Regions from separate parts of the Homo sapiens genome. Here region 2 is linked to region 1. Evidence: fine-mapped expression QTL. A gene starts in region 1. The other region holds a variant in brackets. All regions are shown on one strand. Distances are from middle to middle.

Evidence for each region.
Region 2: its variant is fine-mapped to the expression of ACOT4 in whole blood (TOPMed, PIP above 0.99).

Annotation. Positions count from the first base shown.
Region 1 is chr14:73,590,154-73,594,539 of GRCh38, forward strand. ACOT4 (acyl-CoA thioesterase 4) reads left to right here and starts at 1,720. Exons shown (of 3, transcript NM_152331.4): 1 at 1,720-2,263; 2 at 3,549-3,751. The coding sequence starts at 1,807. It also overlaps a transcript of HEATR4 not described here. RefSeq lists an enhancer at 1,954-2,453 and a silencer at 2,265-2,334.
Region 2 is chr14:73,610,755-73,615,140 of GRCh38, forward strand. It overlaps ACOT6 (acyl-CoA thioesterase 6), which reads left to right and starts at 1,763. Exons shown (of 3, transcript NM_001365788.1): 1 at 1,763-2,278. The coding sequence starts at 1,818. It also overlaps a transcript of HEATR4 not described here. RefSeq lists enhancers at 1,874-1,923, 1,941-2,440, 1,974-2,023 and a silencer at 3,099-3,343. The variant G/A (reference allele first, on the strand shown) is at 1,935.

The DNA of each region.
Region 1 (4,386 bases):
ACCCACATCCTGCTGATTGGCCCATTTTACAGAGAGCCGATTGGTCCGTTTTGACAGGGTGCTGATTGGTTCGTTTACAATCCCTGAGCTAGACACAAAAGTTCTCCACCTCCCCACTAGATTAGCTAGATACAGAGTGCCGATTGGTGTATTCACAAACCCTGAGCTAGACACAGGGTGCTGATTGGTGTGTTTACAATCCCTTAGCTAGACATAAAGATTCTCCAAGTCCCCACCAGACTCAGGAGTCCAGCTGGCTTCACCCAGTGGATGCCGCACGGGGTTCGCAGGTGGAGCTGCCTGCCAGTCCCGCGCCGTGCGCCCGCACTTCTCAGCCCTTGGGCGGTCGATGGGACTGGGCGTTAGTGGAGCAGGGAGCGGAGCTCGTTGAGGAGGCTCGGACCGCGCAGAAGCTCACGGCGGGGGCGGGGGCTCAGGCATGGCGGGCTGCAGGTCCCGAGCCCTGCGCCGCGGGGAGGCAGCTAAGGCCCGCTGAGAAATCGAGCACAGCAGCTGCTGCCCCAGGTGCTAAGCCCCTCACTGCCCGGGGCTTGCGGGCCGGCCGGCCGCTCCAAGTGCGGGGCCGCCGAGCCCACGCCCACCCGGGACTCGCGCTGGCCCGCAAGCCCCGCGGGCAGCCCCGGTTCCCGCCCGCGCCTCTCCCTCCACACCTCCCAGTAAGCTGAGGGAGCCGACTCCGGCCTTGGCCAGCCCAGAAAGGGGCTCCCACAGTGCAGCGGCGGGCTGAAGGGCTCCTCAAGCGCGGCCAGAGTGGGCGCCAAGGCCGAGGAGGCGCCGACAGCGAGCGAGGGCAGCCAGCATGCTGTCACGTATCACTAGCACTTTGGGACTACAGAGGCAGGAGGATAGTTTGTGCTCAGGAGTTCGAGACCAGCCTGGGAAACAGGGTGACACCTCCTCTCTAAAAATAAACATTTAAAAATTAACGTGGCATGGTGGTGCGCTGTCTGTAGTCACAGCTACTCCGAAGGCTGAGACAGGAGGATCACTTGAGCCTGGGAGGTGGAGGCTGCAGTGACCTGTGATCGAGCCACCGCCTTGCAGCCTGGATGACAGAGAGAGACCCTGTCTCAAATACAACAAAAAAGCAGGCCGGGCGCAGCGGCTCACGCCTGTAATCCCTAGCACTTTGGGAGGCCAAGGCGGGAAGATCACTTGAAGTCAGGAGTTCAAGACCAGCCTGGCCAACATGGTGTAACTCCCTCTTTACTAAAAATACAAAAATTAGCGGCATGGTGGCGCGCGCCTGTAATCCCAGGTACTCGGGAGGCTGAGGCAGGAGAATCGCTTGAACCCAGGAGGCGGAGATTGCAGTGAGCCGAAGCGCCACTGCACTCCAGCCTGGGCGACAGAGGAGACTCTGTTTCAAAAAAAAAAAAAGTTAAAAACAAAACCTTCCATGGAGCCCATGAAAGGCTGGAATTTGGCTTGATCTCATTGGCTTTTGGTTTCACCACAAATTGATCATCCAACAACTTTCATTCCAACAACCGAGGGTGGTGTGAGGCAGAGAGGCTTTCTACGGGGTGGGTTGGGCGCCACACCTTGCGCGCCCCGGGGCCCAAGGAGACGACCCTGAAGAGGAGCCTGGCTACTTTTGCCTCAGACGAGTCCGGAGCGCCGGGTTAACCGGTCTGAAGTCCCAGGGGCTTTCTGGGACTGCTCAGCCACCGGCAGCTTCCGGCACCAGGGGACGCCGGACGCCGTCCGGACATTCGGCGCGCTTGCCACGATCTTGGACGGGTCTCGGGCCTCGACCTTTGAATTCCCCGCTCCGGCTCCAAGATGTCAGCAACGCTGATCCTGGAGCCCCCAGGCCGCTGCTGCTGGAACGAGCCGGTGCGCATTGCCGTGCGCGGCCTGGCCCCGGAGCAGCGGGTTACGCTGCGCGCGTCCCTGCGCGACGAGAAGGGCGCGCTCTTCCGGGCCCACGCGCGCTACTGCGCCGACGCCCGCGGCGAGCTGGACCTGGAGCGCGCACCCGCGCTGGGCGGCAGCTTCGCGGGACTCGAGCCCATGGGGCTGCTCTGGGCCCTGGAACCCGAGAAGCCTTTTTGGCGCTTCCTGAAGCGGGACGTACAGATTCCTTTTGTCGTGGAGTTGGAGGTGCTGGACGGCCACGACCCCGAGCCTGGACGGCTGCTGTGCCAGGCGCAGCACGAGCGCCACTTCCTCCCGCCAGGGGTGCGGCGCCAGTCGGTGCGAGCGGGCCGGGTGCGCGCCACGCTCTTCCTGCCGCCAGGTGAGCCAGGCTGCTGGCGGGTGGTGTGAGCGTCAGTGGCCTGAGTCTCCGTTTGTTTCCAGTGCTGATTTAGCACTGGTTTGGTTTTGGAGCAAGATCAGAGAAGCTAACATTGACTATGTCAGTGGCCACTCTACCAAAATAGAGGGTTTGGTACCGGGCGTGGTGACTAACGCCTGTAATCCCAGCACTTTGGGAGGCCGAGATGGGCGGATCACTTGAGATCAGGAGTTTGAGACCAGACTGGCCAGCATGGTGAAACGCTGACTCTACCGAAAATACAAAAATTAGTCCAGCCTGGTGGCACACGCCTGTAGTCCCAGCCACTCGGGAGGCTGAGGCACGAGAATCGCTTGAACCTGGGAGATGGAGGTTGCAGTGAGCCGAGATCGCACCACTGCACTCCAGCCTGGGTGACAGAGCGAGACTCCGTCTCAAAAAAAGAAAAAAGAAAAAAAAGGATTTTTTGTTAGGCTGTGTACTACGGTTTTTACTTGCATTCTATCAGTTAGTCTCTATAATATCCCAATGAAGTTGGTATTGTTATTCTGCAGATGAAAAAACAGGTTCAGGTCGTCAGGTACATTATCCACTTTGCTATTAATCACTACCCTACAGATTTCTACAGGCATCAGCCTGACTTGTCTAAGGCAGAATGATGACAGTGAATGAAGCTATTACCATGTCGTCTTCTCTAGTGTTCTAGGCACACTGTCTCTTCTCCACTTCTTCATGTGCTGCTTTATCACAGGTCACACTTCAGACTCCACTGCCTTTCTCACCTAAAACCATCTCTGGGTATTTCTTTTTCTTTCCTCCCTTTCTACATAGACATCTGAAATATCAGTACACTAAAAACCAGAGGGCTGATGCAACAGAACATAAAGTTTTGTTTCAATCTTTTTTCTTTTCTTTCTTTCTTTTTTTTTTTTTTTTTTTTGAGACAGTGTCTGTCTCTGTTGCCCACGCTGGAGTGCAGTGGTGTGGTCACACCTCACTGCAGCCTTGACCTCTGGGGCTCAAGTGATCCTCCCTCCATTGCCTCCCAAGTAGCTAGGACTACAGGCATACACCACCACACTGACTAATTAAAAAAAAAAAAAGATTGTAGAGATGGGGTCTCACTACATTGTCCAGGCTGGTCTTGAACTCCTGGCCTCAAGCAATCCTCCTGCCTTGGCCTCCTAAAGTGCTGAGATTACAAGCATGAACCACAGTGTCCAGCCAGGAAAGCAAATTCTTTAAATTGTATAATGGCTTACATTTATAATATTTTGTTCTCTAGGACCTGGACCCTTCCCAGGGATCATTGACATCTTTGGTATTGGAGGGGGCCTCTTGGAATATCGAGCCAGCCTCCTTGCTGGCCATGGCTTTGCCACGTTGGCTCTAGCTTATTATAACTTTGAAGATCTCCCCAATAACATGGACAACATATCCCTGGAGTACTTCGAAGAAGCCGTATGCTACATGCTTCAACATCCCCAGGTTCTCCTCATGTCCTTTATTTAATCAGTCTCTCTAGAAATATTTCCATAGAGAGTGTAACCTTTACCACGTGCAGAAATGCTGCTCTGTTCCTCTTTCACAAAGATGTCTTCTGGAGACTTCCTTGGCTTAAGGTGCTATTTCCACTTTTTCTGTCAGATGAATTTGTGATATAGAATTAATTGTAAAATCCACATGAGATTTTATTTAGTAATATTAAATATTATCTGTATATTGCAAATTGAATTTCTAATCTACTGTCTTTGCATGCTTGTTTTTAAATTTTAATTTCCTGGTGTCAGAGTATGTTCTCAGATTTTGGTCAGAACTTGTCCACCCCTTTCAGAAGCCAAGAACAAACTTACTTACTCTGAAGTCTTGCTTTGTAATCATTTGCCAATACATATGGCAAATGATCTGATGAATGATTCACATCTTGAAACAACCTGGTTCCACACTATTGGATGCATTGCCACATGAAGACTTCAGTCAGACCTACCTGAATGTGGCCCTGAACTTGATGGGATCTGTGGCTCAGCGGCTCAGCGGCTCAGCATTCTCTAGTGGATAATTCTCTGAAATGCTTATAACCAGTTTCCAAGTTTTTCAGTGATTTTAAGATGTGTTTGCCATGT
Region 2 (4,386 bases), 21 kb after region 1:
CTCACTAGTAGTTCTCAAGCATAGAACGTGCTGGGAATGTAACATCCTGAGAGAGGGACGGACTGGCTGGAATAGCCCTGGCTCTATTCCAGCCCCTCCCTACAAACAGGATGTCTTTCAATGCTTTAACCCAGCAGTCACATGACCCCAGAGTACAAAACTCAGGGCAGCTGCAGTGCAAGTGGGGCACACACACATGAGATTCCATCACCCAGGCAGCATTCCTGAGCCTTGGGGGACTGGTTTCCAATGATTCTTAGGCTTCTGTCATTCTTTGCTGCCTATCTGTAAGTAATAAATCCAGTTCATGTAAATTGTTGTATTAAATATATGAATGTGTTTTCTCACTGGACTCAGACAAGTTGGTAACCAGCATACAGTGAACTTGCTTCATAGAGTCTAATACCTTTTTGTTCAGTTTATACATGTTTACTGAGCTGGGCATCACTATATGCTCTTCTTCCTTCTCCACCCTGCTATGTTCCCAGCTAGGTTGAGCTGTGTGGTTGGGTTTGGCCAAAGAGAGGCATTAGCAAGATACTGAAAAACAAGAGGAGAGTCAAGGGACTTATAGTCTCCTCCTTCCTGCCACAAACCATAGGTTCCTTCTAAAAAAGGTACAACTCCTATCAGACTGCCCCCTTCCCTTGAACCTTCAGATTCAGGGTTCTACACCGAATCTTGTTTCATTGTTTTTGTTTTTAAATCTTGCCCATGCCTTTGTAGATAGTACCTTTATAAAACTCTCCTCAATTACACAGGCTGAGAGTGCCACTTGCTTACTGCCAGAACTCTGTATGCATACAACCCAAAATGGACTCTGCCAGTGATTAGATTTGTGAGGTAAGAAACAAAACAAAACTTTCACTGGGTACTAACCTACAGGTGTGTCAGTGTAGTGTTTTTACACATTAGCCCATTTAATGGTCACAATAAGCCTTTTCAGATAAGAAAACTGAATTTAGAGGGTTATGTTTCTTGCTAAAGATCACCAGGTATTAATATTAAGGATCAGGGTCAGACCAGAACTCGGCTAGGTCTGCCTCCCTAAACATCTGCTTTGCTCCAGGTACCATTAGCCCTGGAAAAAAGGCTTGGTAAGGGACTGAGGGGTAAAGGACGGATTACGACCATGTTTCTCCAAGGGGTCACCTGAGTACAATCACCTGGGATGCTTTTTCAAAATCTAGATTCTTGGACTGTATCTCTCTCAATCCTTTAGCTCTCAGTGGTTTTTGTGCCTCTATTTCGACACTCACCACATTGGATTGCAGGAATAGTCATTAACTCTTTTTTTTTTTTTTTAGACGGAGTTTTGCCCTTGTTGCCTAGGCTGGAGTACAATGGTGCAATCTTGGCTCAATGCAACCTCTGCCTCCTGGGTTCAAGCAATTCTTCTGCCTCAGCCTCCCAAGTAGCCGGGATTACAGGCATGCGCCACCACACCTGGCTATTTTGTATTTTCAGTAGAGATGAGGTTTCACTCTGTTGGTCAGGCTGGTCTTGAACTCCTAACCTCAGGTGTGATCCACCCACCTCGGCCTCCCAAAGTTCTAGGATCACAGGCGTGATCCACCGCCCCCGGCCGGATTGGTCATTAACTCTTATTTCAGCAGATACTCTTTCATTTGGGACACTGGTGTATTTGCACAAATTCTAGGCGCCCCACGCAGCGGCCTGGAGCCTGTCCCCAAGTCCAACCAATGGGAGTAGTGTTAAGGGCTCCGCCCTCGACTACTTTCCAGCGCTCGGCAAAGCCGCCAGGCCCGCCCACTGACTCCGCGGAGCTGGGTCGCCCCTGTTCTACCCAGATTGGGATGGCAGCGACGCTGATCCTGGAGCCCGCGGGCCGCTGCTGCTGGGACGAGCCGCTGCGCATCGCAGTGCGCGGCCTGGCCCCGGAGCAGCCAGTCACGCTGCGCACGTCCCTGCGC[G/A]ACGAAGAGGGCGCGCTCTTCCGGGCCCACGCGCGCTACCGTGCCGACGCCCGCGACGAGCTGGACCTGGAGCGCGCGCCCGCGCTGGGAGGCAGCTTCGCGGGGCTCCAGCCCATGGGGCTGCTGTGGGCGTTGGAGCCCGAGAAAGCCTTGGTGCGGCTGGTGAAGCGCGACGTGCGGACGCCCTTCGCCGTGGAGCTGGAAGTGCTGGACGGCCACGACACCGAGCCCGGGCGGCTGCTGTGCCTGGCGCAGAACAAGCGCGACTTTCTCCGGCCGGGGGTGCGGCGCGAGCCGGTGCGCGCGGGCCCGGTGCGCGCCGCGCTCTTCCTGCCGCCGGATGAGTAGTCTGCCCAGAATTTGGTCGAGCTCTGCGACCCCCACCGGCCCCTTTCCTGTCCTGGGAATCGCGTGATTGTGGAACATCCCTGAACTTGTTCCTTCGCTCCAGAGTCTGTCATGGATTCTGAGTCTGGGCGTCCGCTGTTGCCCAGGCTGGAGTGCCGTGGCTGGATCGTAGCTCACACTGCAGCCTCGAACTCCTGGGCTCAAGTCCTCTCGCCTCAGCCTCCTGAGTAGCTACTCCAGTCTTTCCTTTTTAAGTTTCACGTCCCTCCCTGGAGGCACCACCACTTTAGCTATGTGCTGAATAGTGCATTCAACTTATTATATATTTATTGAGAGCCACTATGTGCCAGCCATGTGGTTTTGTTTGAATACGATATGGGCAAAACCTTAAGCTGATGTGCAAGAAGGATTTTTGCCTCCTTTCACATCAAACTTCCAAAGAAGCTAAAATCCACAGTATTGGCAATGCCCTTTAATTGTTTAAAAACACACACAAAACTGCCTGACAGTCCTCTCCCTTCTATCATAAACATGCTGTACGTGGTTCTCAACCTGCAATGATTAGCCGCCCTCCCTGGGGGAAATTTGGCAATATCTGGAGACATTTGTGGTTGTCATATCTGAAGGGAGAGGTGCTATTGGCATCTAGCAGGCAGAGGCCAGAGATGCTGCTAAACATTCCACAATGCACAGGACAACCACCAGAACAAAGAATTATCTTGCTGAAAATGTCTGTACTACTGAGGTTGAGGAACCCTAGTCTAAGTAAACACAGGATGTTTGCTAGGTAAAGGTAGCCCAGAAAGAAGACTCCTGATTAATCCCTTCTAACTAAATTCCTGACTTAAACCTCTACCATATAAAAATGATGAGCCGGGCACAGTGGCTCAGGCCTGTAATCCCAGCACTTTGGGAGGCTGAGGTGGGCAGATCACTTGAGCCCAGGAGTTCAAGACCAGCCTGGGCAACATGGTGAAACTCTGTCTCTACAAAAAAAAAAAAAAAAAAAAAAAAATTAGGCAGGCATGGTGGTGCATGCCTGTAGTCCCAGCTGCTTGGGAGGCTGAGGTGGGAGGATTGTTTGATATCAGGAAGTAGAGGTTGCAGTGAGCTGAGATCACGCCACTGCATTCCAGCCTGGACAACAGAGTGAAACCCTGCCTCAAACAACAACAACAACAACAAATTCTAGAGTTGCAACAGCACATAGAATCCTTAAACCGAATTCTGTGATTATTCTCCAAAACAAGAAAACTTGCTTTATTTTTACAGCTCTTCAGCAATTCTTAGCCTTAACTCGTGGCTGCCCACTGTACTGTGAATTCCTGGGGCTGGAATTGGGTCTTACAGATTTCTAAATATCCATGTTCCTAGAGGCTTTCGCAAGGATATAGTAGGAGCTCAATAAATCATACTGACTGGGCCAGGCGCAGTGGCTCACACCTGTAATCCTAGCACTTTGGGAGGCTGAGGTGGGTGGATCACTTGAGGCCAGGAGTTCAAGACTAGCCTGGCCAACATGGCAAAACCCTACCTCTACTAATTATATAATACAAAAAAATTAGCCAGGCATAGTGGCTCACACATGTAGTCCCAGCTACTAGGGAGGCTGAGGTGGGAGAATCGCTTGAACCCGGGAGGCTGAGGTTGCAGTGAGCCAAGATTGCGCCACTACACTTCAGCCTGGGCGACAGAGCGAGACCCTGTCTCAAAAAAAAAAAAAAAAAAATCACACTGACTAAGAATCAACTAAAACCTTTCATTAAAAACAAACAAGGAGCCGGGCGCAGTGGCTCACGCCTGTAATCCCAGCACTTTGGGAGGCCGAGGCAGGTGGATCACCTGAGGTCAGGAGTTCGAGACCAGCCTGACCAACATGGTGAAACCCCGTCTCTACTAAAAATACAAAAGTTAGCCGGGCATGGTGGTGGGTGCCTGTAATCTCAGGAGGCTGAGGCAGGAGAATCTCTTGAACCCAGGGGGCAGAGGTTGCAGTGAGCCAAGATCGCACCGTTGCACTCCAGCCTGGAGGACAGAGCAAGACTCCATCTCAAAAAAAAAAACAAGGCGGCCAGGCGCGGTGGCTCACGCCTCTAATCCCGGC